2 linked regions of the Homo sapiens genome follow. The protein of the gene in region 2 interacts with the protein of the main gene of each other region in a pairwise test. Each region holds a gene or a part of one and is shown on either strand. Other genes may lie near its edges.

Region 1 (5,342 bases), on a different chromosome or scaffold from region 2:
CTGAGGGCTAGGAAGAAAGGAAAACAAGGGAAAAGAGGAAGTAATTATTCTTATTTCTTTTTAGTCTGCCTCAATCTTCAAAAGAGCATTTTACCTACAGGGATGCTTTGGGGTTTTTTGGGGTTTGTTCTTTTTGTTTTGTTTTGTTTTTGTTGTTTTTATGTTTTGAGTTTTTGTTTTGTTTTTTTTTTTTGAGACGGAGTTTTGCTCTGTCGCCAGGCTAGAGTGCAGTGGCCTGATCTTGGCTCACTGCAACCTCCGCCTCCCAGGTTCAAGCGATTCTCCTGCCTCAGCCTCCTGAGTAGCTGGGTCTACAGGTGGGCGCCACCACGCCCAGCTAATTTTTGTATTTTTAGTAGAGACGGGGTTTCACTATGTTGGCCAGGATGGTCTCAATCTCTTGACCTTGTGATCTGCCTGCTTCAGGGATGCTTTTGTAAACGCACGGCTTGGTTCTATTTCAAAATAGTCTAACTTAATAGGAAAAAAAAAACAAGACATGTAGTTCAATAATATTTTATTGTCAATAGCATAGGAAAAATTCAATATTGAATCTCAGAACAAGAAGAACCTATTTACAATGCAGGTCAAGGAAGAGATGGGAGAAGGAATGTCACAAAATTTTTGGTAAATACATATTTTTTATAGAGAAGTAATCCATGAACCTGCAACACGGATAGCTTATCCAACCAACTTTACAAATTACTATTAATATAAGTTACATGCTTGCCATCTAAAGTAACTAAACCCATAGACTGAAAAACTATGTGTCAAGGTAACGTGAGCACTTTAATCACTTTACTTATATTTTCTAAAGGCAGTAGTTTCCTCTCCTTTTCCCGCTATCATATTAGATGAAGAGACAAGTTCCTTCAACACAAATTCTGATATCGGCTATTGTGAGAATCCCTGTGCAAGTCAGCTAGAAGCCCCTGCCACCAGTCTAGTGCCAACCAAATGACCAGATGGGACAGCTATCAAAAATGAAAGTGAATTTATATTAAGATCTGAACTTCCTCTTGGGGTCTTGCATTTCAGCTACTAGAGGTCTATAATTCCTTATCCAACATTCCACAATCTGAAAAGCTCTGCGAACGAAGTGTTTTTGTAAGTTGGTGGCATACGCATTTGGCAGCAAATTTTGACCCCTTATGGGCTACTTAGTCTTTATGTATCCATTTTGTCTGAATATTCTACATTTTGTTGCAGCATATTAAGGTGTTGATTTATAGGGTGCTGCCCCAGATCTGATCCATGAAGTTCTATAACATACAGTGTATGTAAAATATTATCTTTTGAAAATCCCCAAAATTCAGAATTTTAATAAACACCTGCCTGCCAGGGCTTAACATAAGGACTTCTGGACCTATAGTAGCCTGAGCATGTGCCCAAGTTTCACTGGAGCCAGGGCAGTTTCGTGGGTCCCATGCACTACACTTTCTTCAGTCTTTCAGGGAAGCGAGAATGTCTGGAACATTCTCTATCCCAAAGAAGGAAAGCATAGTGCTGGGAAGAAGAGCTTCCAAATCTTCCTTATAGGAATTTTCTTTGTGGAAGACTGTATTTCTGCCAACTACCCCGGACAATTTGACAAATAATGAATAAATATTTTTCCTCTAACGTGATTCCTTTTCATTAAAAGCGTATGTCATTGTCTTATGGGAAAAAAGGAAACAAAAGATAGAATTGGAAAAAAAAAAAAGGTCTATCTGTGTGAAGGCTACATATGACAAGTACTGGCGGCTTCCTGATCCAGCAACATTAGCAATTTATTGTATCTAGAAAATGAATCTCTGGATGCAGAGTTTACAGAAATCGGCATCCACAGAAAAGTCAGGGAGGACTTAACATGGGCTATGCCACTTAAGGAGAACAGAATTTGCCAAAGAAAATAATGTTTCGAGTTTTGTTGTGCCTGATGATGTAAATAAAGGGATGGTCAGCATTCAATTCATCCTTGTGCTGCAGGATCCGTGCTCCTGGCACCTCTATGGAATCCCCACCATCTTCAGTTATTTCTAAGCACACTTTGTGGATAACATTTGATAGGGCCACTCCCTTGGTCTCTGACATTCCAGAGAAATCAGATGTGTCTTCACTGAAGATATGTTTCAGCCCTAGATTTTCCAGACAAGCCTTGGGATCAATCATCTTTTCCACCTTAAATTTTGGAATGGAGAGTTTGACCTTGGCATTGGCCATGGTGCTGGGATTAGTCCACTGTGACAGTGACTCTGAGTTGAGTTGTTTTTCAATCTGAAGGACAAAAATGAAAAGAAATTATTTTTATTTATTTCCAACTGTAAAAGACCTGGCTCAATTGAAAACATAAGGTGTTATGATAAGCCCAGCTTCAAAGCAGTCTGGGTGGAACATCAAAGATGGCCCAGAAGTTTTTGGTATGTGACTCAGGAGACCCAGCAGCCACCCAGCTGTGTCCTCCTCCTCCCCAGCCTATAACAGTGTTCCATGTGCACTGAAATTTATGAGGACAGGGTTCTGTTTTTTCATTTTAAGTTAGAGAGTAGTTTTTTGTTTGTTTGTTTGTTTGTTTGGGTTTTTTTTAGACAATCTTGTTCTGTCACCCGGGCTGGAGTGTAATAGTGTGATCGTCGCTCATTGCAACCTCTGCCTCCTGGGTTCAAGCAATTCTCGTGCCTCAGCCTCTCGAGTAGCTGGGATTACAGGCACACTCCACCATGCCCAGCTAAATTTTCTTTTGTATTTGTAGTAGAGACAGGGTTTCATCATGTTGGCCAAGCTGGTCTCAAACTCCTGGCTTCAAGTGATGTGCCAGCCTCAGCCTCCCAAAGTGCTGGGATTAAAGGTGTGAGCCACCGCACCCAACCTTAAGTTAGAGAGTAGATTTATAGAAACAAATGCCTGGATCATGATGTTGCATACACAATAGTGAAATGAATATAAAATTAGAAAGCTTTTTACACATATTTCTTGAATGCTTATTGTAATTTCTCTACGAGGAAATCCAGAATATTCATGTACTAGGAATGGCATCAGATTTAGAAAATTAAATTAAAGCTAAAGTTACTTTTTTTTTTTAATGGGAATTTGAACTAACTCTGAGCCATGCCCTAGGGTCATAGGTAGTGAATGCATCCATTTTAGCTGTTTTAAAAAATGAGAGAGATGCGGCTGGGCGCAGTGGCTCACGCCTGCAATCCCAGCACTTTGGGAAGCCGAGGTGGGTGGATCACGAGGTCAGGAGATCGAGACCATCCTGGCTAACACAGTGAAAGCCCGTCTCTACTAAAAATACAAAAAATTAGCCAAGCGTCGTGGCAGGCACCTGTAGTCCCAGCTACTCGGGAGGCTGAGGAAGGAGAATGGCATGAACCCAGGAGGCGGAGCTTGCAGTGAGCTGAGATCATGCCACTGCACTCCAGCCTGGGGGACAGAGCAAGACTCCATCTCAAAAAAAAAAAAAAAATCATTTCCAAAACTCAAAAGGTCATTTTCTTTAGTTCTATACTTTAAGAAGAAAATAATTGAAAGCCAAAATTGACAAATGGGATCTAATTAAACTAAAGAGCTTCTGCACAGCAAAAGAAACTACCATCAGAGTGAACAGGCAACCTACAGAATGGGAGAAAATTTTTGCAATCTACTCATCTGACAAAGGGCTAATATCCAGAATCTACAAAGAACTCAAACAAATTTACAAGAAAAAATCAAACAACCCCATCAACAAGTGGGCAAAGGATGTGAACAGACACTTCTCAAAAGAAGACATTTATGCAGCCAACAGACACATGAAAAAATGCTCATCATCACTGGCCATCAGAGAAATGCAAATCAAAACCACAATGAGATACCATCTCACACCAGTTAGAATGGCGATCATTAAAAAGTCAGGAAACAAGAGGTGCTGGAAAGGATATGGAGAAATAGGAACACTTTTACACTGTTGGTGGGACCGTAAACAAGTTCAACCACTGTGGAAGTCAGTGTGGCAGTTCCTCAAGGATCTAGAACTAGAAATACCATTTAACCCAGCCATCCCATTAGTGGGTGTATACTCAAAGGATTATAAATCATGCTGCTATAAAGACACATGCACACGTATGCTTATTGGAACACTATTCACAATAGCAAAGACTTGGAACCAACCCAAATGTCCAATAATGATAGACTGGATTAAGAAAACGTGGCCCATATACACCATGGAATACTATGCAGCCATAAAAAATGATGAGTTCGTGTCCTTTGTAGGGACACGGATGAAGCTGGAAACCATCATTATCAGCAAACTATCACAAGGACAACAAACCAAACACTGCATGTTCTCACTCATAGGTGGGAATTGAACCATGAGAACACCTGGAAACAGGAAGGGGAACACCACACACCAGGGCCTGTTGTGGGGTGGGGGGAGGGGGGAGGGATAGCATTGGGAGATATACCTAATATAAATGACAACTTAATGGGTGCAGCACACCAACATGGCACATGTATATACATGTAACAAACCTGCACATTGTGCACATGTACCCTAAAACTTAATGTATAATTAAAAAAAAGAAAAATAAATTATTGAAATAAAAAAAGAAGAAGAAGAAGAAAATAATTGATGTTTATTGGAGGGCGTTTTAAGAACGAAAGGTAAAATCCAAGACAGCTGGATAATGGCTGAAAGATCAAAGCATAAAATGGAAAGAAAAAAAACAGAGAGAGTAATGCACCAAAGAAGAAGAAGGACAGGAATTATAATTCAGTTAATAAAGTGGTGGCTAAAACATAATGGCAACCAAAGGAGCAAGCTGGAGACTGGATGGTCCCCTGGAAAGTCAGCAAATCACTGAGGCCCATGTGGATATATAGCAAGTGATCCAGGCCTTCAAAGAGCCCCTTCTTCCTTCCTGGCCAAGGGTTGAGGCCAGGCGGGGTGGAGCTAGAATGGAAGCCAGGGAGGGACTAAAGGGAGAACAGGCCTCAGCCAGCTAAGCAGAGGTGAGGGAGCAGAGAGGAAGCTAAAACTCCATTCACCTGCAGAGAAAACTGCTACTCTTATTTAAACTTTGTGCCTTAAAAATCTATATAAATAAAATAATATAATAACCCTTATCATATAAAATAAAATACTTATATATAATGTGTACTATAAAATAGTATCTGCATAATTCAAAATTTTGAAGCATATATGTGTACGTATTAAAATCTCATAAATGTACAACACAAAGAGTGAACCGTAACGTAAATTGTGAAGGCCAGGTGTGGTGGCTCATGCCTATAATCCTAGCACTTCAGGAGGCTGAGGCTGAGGATTGCTTGAGGCCAGGATTTCAAGACCAGCCTGGACAACACAGTGAGATCCCACCTTTACA
Region 2 (8,601 bases):
AGGGTCCCTCGTGGACCAGCGATGCAAGAACTTGGGAGTGAGTCCTTGGCTTTGATCTCAGTTCTGTCAGTAGCTTGCTAAGCTTGCTAAGTGGGCAATTCCCTTGCCCGGTCTGAGCCTCTGCAGGTCAACTCCAGAGATGTCTGTCATTCTGAGGGAAGTGACAGGAACAACACCTCAGGGATCACTCCTCGCCCTAAATGAATCGCTCTCCTCCCTTTCCCAGCCCTCCAGAGGGTGTATCTGGGCCACAGACTTGGGAAACCTGAGAACTATGGGTTCAGAGAAACAGGCCCCACTTTGTACCTTGTCCCCAACTTTGTAGCTGGGCAGGCTGGGCATGCGGATGTTGGCAATGTCCACTGAGGGTGCGTCCTCCTGTGGAGGGGTTGCCAGGATCTTCTTTTTGCTCTGGATCTGGCTGTAGATCTCCTGGATGATCTGCTCAGCCATGTTTTTGGGGAGGGGCTTCCCATGCCAAGACTCCTTATCTTCTACCCCTGCAGACCCAACACGGGAGGACAGAGGAATGGGTAAGACAGAAGCTCCCAGAGGGCCAGGAGGCTGCTCCAGGAGACTGGCCCTCTACCTGCCGAGGGCAAGGGAGGAATGGCATCATCCCAGACAGGCAGAGCCCAGCCAGGCACGGGGGCCAGGAAAGGAGGGTCGCAGTGAATAGGATGGACTCCTACGTGCCCACCACTCACTGTCTACTGCCTGGTCCTTTGGGAGCTCACAGCTGAGTGGGAAAGGAGGGGCCAGACGTGGGCAGGTGTGTGTTTCTGGGCCCACTGCCCCATCCCTTCACCAATGTGTCCATTCTCTTCCTCCCCACAACCCCGCCTGCAGGGTCACACACAGGTAGAGGTGTCTGCTGCAGAAATACTCAGTTTGTCGACTGGGTTGGAAGGGACCCTGGCCATCAGAAGGGGAACCCAAGGCCCAGAACAGGGCTTCCAGGGTCACCCAATGCATCTGTGAGCAGCAGAGGAGTCTATAAGCACCTAGGCATGCCCACCCCATGGCACCTTGTTGTGTGCGGCCAGGAAGGCTGAATATCCCTCTCCCTGGAGGTCACCTCAGTAGTCACTAGAGTCTGGCCAGAGCCAAGAACAGACTGAACTCCCAGGTAGCACCCAGCAGCCCGAAAGACTAGCAGGAGCCCCCAAGAAGCTGCAAGTGGTCCAGATCCTGCCCATTTTTAACACCAGAGGGCAGTGCCAGGCAGCAGCACCAAAGCCATGACAATATCCCAGAGCCCTTTCCTCGACATCCACCCCCTCCCAGACACCTCCCAGCACTGCCAAACCCCCACTCAGAACATCCTCATATACCTGAGTCTACATGGGCAGAACAAGCCACAACCCCTGAGAGCAGGCAGGTGGGCAGCCAGGGGCATTTGGCAGGGAAGCCGACCCAGGCCCTGGGATCAGCCCCCCTCGTGCCATAGACTTCCTCTGTCCCCGGGCAAGTCCCTGACCACTTGTAGTCTCATTTTCCCATCTTTAAAATGGGTGAGGCCATCCCAGGCCTAGGAATCTGAAGCCCACACCTGGGTGCCAGGGAGTGACTTACGCCTGCCTCATTCTCCGGCCTGGGGCAGAACCCAGGTTCCAAACCCCCCAAGGCTCTTGGCCCACACAGGCCTTGCTCAGCATCTGCCATTGCTTGAGGAGTACCCCACTCACCTCCTGGAGGGAACAGTTCTCTCCGGGCCCTGCCTGGCTCTGTGTCGGCCCTTCAGCTGGAGCAGGTGGCCGGAGCTGGCAGAGCACACACAGCTGCAGCTCTGAAAGGCACCAGCCAGGGTGGGGCACGGGGGCTGCCTCACTCCACGACCTTCCTCTCACCCACAGACCCTCCAAGTCCCTCCTCTCCTCCTGCCTGTACATGCCCCCACCGGCAGAGGCCAGACGGATCTGAGTTTAAATCCTGGCTCAGCCACAGGGGTCACTGAGTCACAGCATCTCCCGCTCCCCTTCCCTGGAGCCTGGTGAGCTCAGTGAGCAGCAAGGGCTGTTTCCCTGGATGTGCGGGTCAGAGCTACGTAGCCACAGTGTCTGGGCGAGGGGTGAAGGTGGGGAGGGCGGCTTGTGCATACTGACCCGTGATCCCTCGGCCCTTGAAGGTCTTGGCAATGATGGCTGTTGGCTGGTGCTTGGCCTGGCCAAAGGCCTTGCACAGCTCCTCCACGCTGTGTCCATCCACGATGATGGCATGCCAACTGGGGACAGGGGGCAGAGAGTAAGGGGCAATTCCCAGGGGCCACAACACCGAGGAGCCTTCCAGGGAAAGGTCTGCCTTGGCAGCTGGGGTCTGCCCAGGCTCCACCCCACAACTGCGGCCTCAGCTGGAGTAGTAGAAAGCTTGCAACATTCCTGTTTCCAGTTTGGGTTTTTTAAATCCTTTTCTTTTTCACATTATTTTACTTCCTTTTGTTTGCCTCTGAACAGGTTTTCCTCCTCCTCTTAAGTAATCCAGAGCTCAGTTCCTTTATTGTCTCTTTCATTCCTGATCTGCTCATTTCCTACTGAAAGCTGTTCTGGGGTCAGCGCACTGGGTTTGGAATCTGTCTGCTATTAGATTCTTGATGAATTTTTTGGCCCAATTCTTATTTGGGGAACACATTTGATCACTCCACAGATGCTGGATGTGGTGCTGGAAATGTTTTTGAAATGAACCATGGAGTCAAATATACAGGAAGGAGCTGGGGCAGAGCACCCTTTCTCTTGAAAAGCTATCCTTTTGGGGACTCTTTTTGACATAAGAATAAAAATAGCACTTCTCAAACTGAGTGCCATGCCAACCACTACCCATATTAGCCCACTGAAGCCTCACCACGCCATGCTTGGGTGCTGAGCTGGCCCCATTGTACAGACAAATCAACTGAGACACCGAAGGTGGAGTAAGTAACGTGACCCACGCCACAAAGCAAGTTAGCGGTGGAGCCAGGACTTCAGGAATCTGGCTTGAGTCACGAGGTTATGGACACAGGTCCTGGGGGTGCTGCTGGGGTTGTACTCTGAGTCCCCAGATAGATGTGGCCTTGGGGAGGCCTGTGGGGTGAGGACCCTGTGGCTCAGTTTCCTCGCCTGTCCAACAGAGATTATTTCCTCCCTTCCTCCTCTCCCTTTCTGAGGTCAGTCATCAGGGAACACAGGCCTGCGTATGCTGTGCTACTGCAAGGTAACCCCAAGCATCCTGTTACTTAGTGTAGTCACAGGCATGGGTTCATCCGCAAAACGCAGTCCTGGAGGCCTGACCTGAGTCTCAAAGCCTTGCACGGCACCTGCCCTGCTCCCTCCCCTCCACAGCCTCCTCAGCCAATGCTGGGCCCCTGTGCAGAGCAGCTTGTGTTTGGCAACACCGGTGGAGGCTTTGAGGTGGAGCCCCTCTGGCTGACACCCATGCAGATTGACCTCCCTGCTTTGTGCCCTTTGACCCTGAATTTGTAACCAATCAAGGCCGAAGGGGGGCATCTGGAAACCCTATCTCCCATTTCACCAGGAGCCTGTTCCTCCTCCCCAGGCTGGGCGGGGCTGGGCACAGGACGTGGCCACCAAACTGAGGTTCAAACCTCTCCGCAGCTATACATCCTTTAGCTTTACCGAGCAAGCCCCCATCCCTCAAGAACCCTCCTTCCTCAAGAACAAAGCGAGCTGACGTGAGATGGTGTGTGGAAGCTCCGAGAGCCACCATGCCACAACCACGAAAACAAGGAAACTCACTTAAAACTGGGCCTGGCCCACATATCCTGAGCCATTAAGTCCAAATGCCTAGAGTTTGAAATTGTGAGTCAAATGCTAAAGAAAGGGACCTTTAGATGGTGCTTAAGGTCCCAGCTTCAGCTCCTGCACCTGCACCTGCAAAGCTGTGATCACAGACCACTCTCCCGTGCTGTGACCACACTCAGGCCACAGCCTCGTACATACCCGAAGGCCTCGCACCGCTTCTGGTAGATGTCCATCTGGTGCTGCAGTGGGGCCGGGTCACTCTGGCCCAGGCGATTGATGTCTAGAATGGCCACAAGGTTGTCCAGCTTATAGATGCTGGCGAAGGCCATGGCCTCCCATACAGAGCCCTCTGACAGCTCCCCGTCTCCCAGCAAGCAATAGACTCGGTAGCTGTGGACAGAGAGTGAATCAGGCCAGTCCCTCTCACCTGGACCCAGCTGGCTCCCACCCCCCCACCCATCCAAGGAGCCTGCATTCTGGGTAAAGGAGCAGCCACGCATGGATATGCAGAACAGATGGCATTTACACTCGAGGGGCAACAGTGTCACCAGGTTCCTGCAGCCTACCACAAGCCACACCCCAAGAGAAAATGGCATGAAGGAAGACGTCAGGAGCTCAGGAAGAAGTACTGGTTGTTAAGAAACAGAGGTCTAGGACAACAGGGATCTGGCTAATAAGATCTAGAAAAATGGGGGTTGTTGGAATGAGAGGAAAGTGAGGAAGGGTGGGTGAATAGGCTTGAGCCACCTGCTGCAGGGGACAGACCCCGCTGTGAACCAGAGGTTGGAGGAGGCCTTGGGACTGGCTGGGTGGGCCAGTGGGAAAGGGGAACCTTGGGAACCAAGCTCTGCTTCTGCCCGGAGGAGGGAGGTGGGCCAAGGAGGCCTGAGGCACTCTAGGCAACACCCTGGAGCAAGAGGGCTCTGGGGAGGATAGAGCAGAGGGCACTTGAGGACCAGGCGCTTCCTGGGACAGGCTCTCCCCAAGCTTCCAAGACTAGCTCTTGACCCCAAGACTGAAGCTGCACCTGGCTCTTTCTCTACCACAGGGGCCCTCTCCTCCCCTCAACACAGGCAACTGTGATCTTTTCAAGACAGTGAGACGTTAAAAAGAACACTGAACTTGGGATAAATTACCCAGCAAACAGAACGTTCCCGGCCTGGGAGATGTGAGGGGATGGGGGTAGCAGAGGGACGGCAGCAACAGACAGGACTTGTCTGAAGGTCGCGCTGTCAGGAAGTTGCTGAGCCAGGATTCAAACGCAGGTCTGACTGTAGCCTAGACTGTCCGCTCCTTGCCGTGCAGGCATGCAAGTAGGGTGAGGAGTGGTAGGACTTGGGGACCTCCCCTTACCCTGCCCAGTGTCTAGCTGTGTAGCCCTAGGAAATGAGGCTGGTGCCTGGTTGGGCTCAGAGGGGACATGGCTGCCCTCCTGCTCCTGCAGGAAAAGGCCCTCAACCCGGCTGCATGCTCAGCAGTCCAAGCCTCCAGGCCTCCCTGCCGCAGGGCCAAGGCAGGGGCAGCAGGAAGAGGCTGGGACAGCTAGCCACGGAGCTGTCAGCATGACTCAGCACTTCCACATGCCAGCAGGCCAGGAGCACTCCCTGCAGCCTCTCCTGCCTCATACTGCTCTTCTGTGGCCTCCACCACAGGAGGTGGTGCCCCTGTGGGGTACCATGGCCAGAAGGACAAAGCCTCAGGCCCACACTTCAGAGGCCCTATCCTGTCCCAGCCTTGCCTCCTCTTTCCCCTGTAGGTTTTGAGGGGGCCCAGAGACCCTGCAGGGACTCTGGTCTGGCACAGCAGCTCCAGAAAGGGGCCACATGATGGGGCTGAGCCAGAGAAGCCAACTCGACTTCCCAGAAAGGGATTCCAGGGAAGGCAACTGGCTGCCACCCCAAGCCCACACCCACTTCCAGGGAAGTCGAACCGAGGCTAGCACTGGAGGCCCAGCACAGCTTTGGCTTCGAGACTAGGGACAAGGCTAAGCCCTACAGGGCCATCAGGCTCAGGTCAGAGGGCGTGCTGAGGTCCCGAGGAGATGCCAAGGAAGGGGTTGTGAACAGGGAAGGGGCCTACAGGAGCCTGGGCTAACCCTGAGGCTTGGTATTGCCTGAGCTGTTAGAGTTAGGGGTGGGGGGCTGCAAACATCCATTCATGAACTAATTTGAAGAGAGGGAACCCTAAACAGAAGGTCGACATTTGTTGTAGAACGATTTGGAAACTACCTTACGTGTCCAACAACAAAGGACTGGCTAGATGGATTATAGCATCTCCATAAAACAGAATATTATGTGATCATTAAAACCAGCTCTCAGGATGTGTGCAGTGGCTCACGCCTGTAATCCCAGCACTCTGGGAGGCTGAAGTAGGGAGATGACCTGAGGTCAGGAGTTTGAGACTGACCATCCTGGCCAACGTCATGAAACCCCGTCTCTACTAAATATATAAAAATTAGCTGAGTGTGGTGGTGCGCGTCTGTAATCCCAGCTACTCGGGAAGCTGAGGCAGGAGAATTACTTGAACCCAGGAGGCGGAGGTTGCAGTGAGCTAAGATGGCACCACTGCACTCCAGCCTGGGTGACAGAGCAAGACTCCATCTCAAAAAAACAAAACAAAACAAAAAAAACCAGCTCTCCACTGTTAATATCAGGAGAAAAAGCTCATGATAGAAGGCTTGGTTTAAAGTGTAATACTAGATTTTATATTATACACACACACACACACACACACACACACACACACACACACTGGGATTACAGATTTGTAAGCTTTTCTCATGATAACATGGACAAAATACATCATTAGATTTAAATTGGGGGTGGGAGGCAGTGTGCTAAGAATAAGGAAAACATTGGTTGGGTGCAGTGGCTCATGCCTGTAATCCCAGCACTTTGGGAGGCCGAGGTGGGCAGATCACAAGGTCAGGAGATTGAGACCATCCTGGCTAACATGGTGAAAGCCCGTCTCTACTAAAAATACAAAAAATTAGCCAGGCGTGGTGGCACGTACCTGTAGTCCCAGCTACTCGGGAGGCTGAGGCAGGAGGAGAATCACTTGAACCCGGGAGGCGGAGGTTGCAGTGGGCCGAGATCGTACCACTGCACTCCAGCCTGGGTGACAGAGCGAGACTCCATCTCAGAAAAAATAAAAATAAAAAAATAAGGAAAACGTTCATTTCTTAATATCATTCTGTACTTTTTAAACAGGAGGGCAGGGAGAAACAGTGAGTGGAGACCAGTTTGCTCTATCAAGACGCTACCTCCGGGTGCCTGGCCTGACATGATAATCCCTGGATGCCCTGGCCCCTTCCCCCAGGTACAGTCAGGGGCCTAGGCTCCAGGCAACCCTGGCCCCAAGCCACCCTGGCTTCTGGGAACCCAGCTAAACTCCTTCTCCCTACACTGACTTGTTCCATTATGTTAGGGTCAGGAAATGCCCCTTCACAGGGAATTATTTCCAGCAACTGTAGGGAATAATTAACTCACATCTCTGGTTCTCTGCCAAATAAAATGCTCTTAAACATGCATCTCATTCTTTGTGTGTCTCTCTCTCTTTACTTCATGGTGAATCACTTCTGGGTGTAGCCAAGCCTGCCCCAAGGCTCACCAAGGAATGAAAGCAAACTGTGGTCAGGTGACACTGGCCTGAAGGGGTCTGGAAGGGACTGTGAGGCCTCCTTGGAGAGCCAGTCCTGGGGAAGGGCCTGCACACAGAAGGTGCTCCCTGCAGCCTCCTGTCCTTCAAGGACCCACAGTCTTCCCGAACCCCACTATGGCACTTCTGCTGCAGGAGTGGAGGACAGGGCAGTGGAGATGCCATCAGCTGCAGAACTGGGCCCTTCTCACACCCTGCGGGCTGGCCCCACTGGCCTTCCTCCTCTAGGAGGCTTCCCGCCCACAGGACTCCCCGAGCTCCTGTGGTGCCCTCAGCCTCTCCAAGAGCAGCCTGGGTACCTCCACCACCAACTGGATGGCCTAGGCCAGCATCTTGCCTCAGCTTCCTCACCTGTAAGACGGGTCACGGTTCTCACACCACTACCCAACTCACAGGGGGCTTTTAAAGGTGGAACCCAATACAGCACATGAGCACTGAGCACAGGGCCTAGCCCCCAAAGGGCAAAGGAACCCTTCTGATGAGTGACTGACATGGTTAGGCTCTGGGTCCCCACCCAAATCTTACCTTGTAGCTCCCGTAATTCCTACTGGTTGTGGGAGGGGCCCAGCAGGAGATAACTGAATCATGGGGACAGGTCTTCCCCATGCTGTTCTCGTGATGGTGAATAAGTCTCACAAGATCTGATGGTTTTAAAAACGGGAGTTTCCCTGCACAAACTCTCTCTTTGCCTGCGCCTTCCACATAAGATGTGACTTGTTCCTCCTTACCTTCCAGCATGACTGTGAGGCCTCCCTAGCCATGTGGAACTGTAAGTCCATTAGACCTCTTTTTCTTCCCCAGACTTGGGTATGCCTTTATCAGCAGTGTGGAAACAGACTAATACAGTGATTATTCTTTAAAAAAAAGAATAATTTTTTTTTTAAAGAGGCAGAGTCTCGCTCTGTAGCCCAGGCTAGGGTGCAGTGGCTCAATCATGTATAGCTATAATCTTGAAGCCCTAGGCTCAAGTGATCCTCCCACCTCAGCCTCCTATGTAGCTGGGACTACAGGTGTGTACCACCATGCCTGGCTAAGTTTTGTATTTTTTGTAGAGAGAGTCTTGCTCTGTTGCCTAGGCTGGTCTGGAACTCCTGGCCTCAAGCAATCCTTCCCTCAGCCAGCCATTATTCTTAACAGTTTACAACCTCATCCCCCCAGGCCATATCTGACCACCGCAGACAAACTTATGGCTAGAACCTTCCTGGGGGGC

What was found. Proteins that work in one complex are often made in the same cells at the same time.
Region 1: the proteins of TKT (region 2) and SERPINB5 interact in a two-hybrid assay, tested with the Homo sapiens proteins (one study listed by BioGRID).

What each region holds. Positions count from the first base shown.
Region 1 is NC_000018.10:63,500,244-63,505,585, reverse strand, and holds the end of SERPINB5 (serpin B5), read right to left. Parts: intron 2,257-5,342; coding exon 1,864-2,256; 3' UTR 501-1,863; downstream 1-500. UniProt on the Homo sapiens protein: Tumor suppressor. It blocks the growth, invasion, and metastatic properties of mammary tumors.
Region 2 is NC_000003.12:53,231,051-53,239,651, forward strand, and holds part of TKT (transketolase), read right to left. Parts: intron 6,771-8,601; coding exon of another isoform or gene 6,747-6,770; intron 4,125-6,746; coding exon 3,933-4,124; intron 2,225-3,932; coding exon 2,106-2,224; intron 501-2,105; coding exon 307-500; intron 1-306. UniProt on the Homo sapiens protein: Catalyzes the transfer of a two-carbon ketol group from a ketose donor to an aldose acceptor, via a covalent intermediate with the cofactor thiamine pyrophosphate.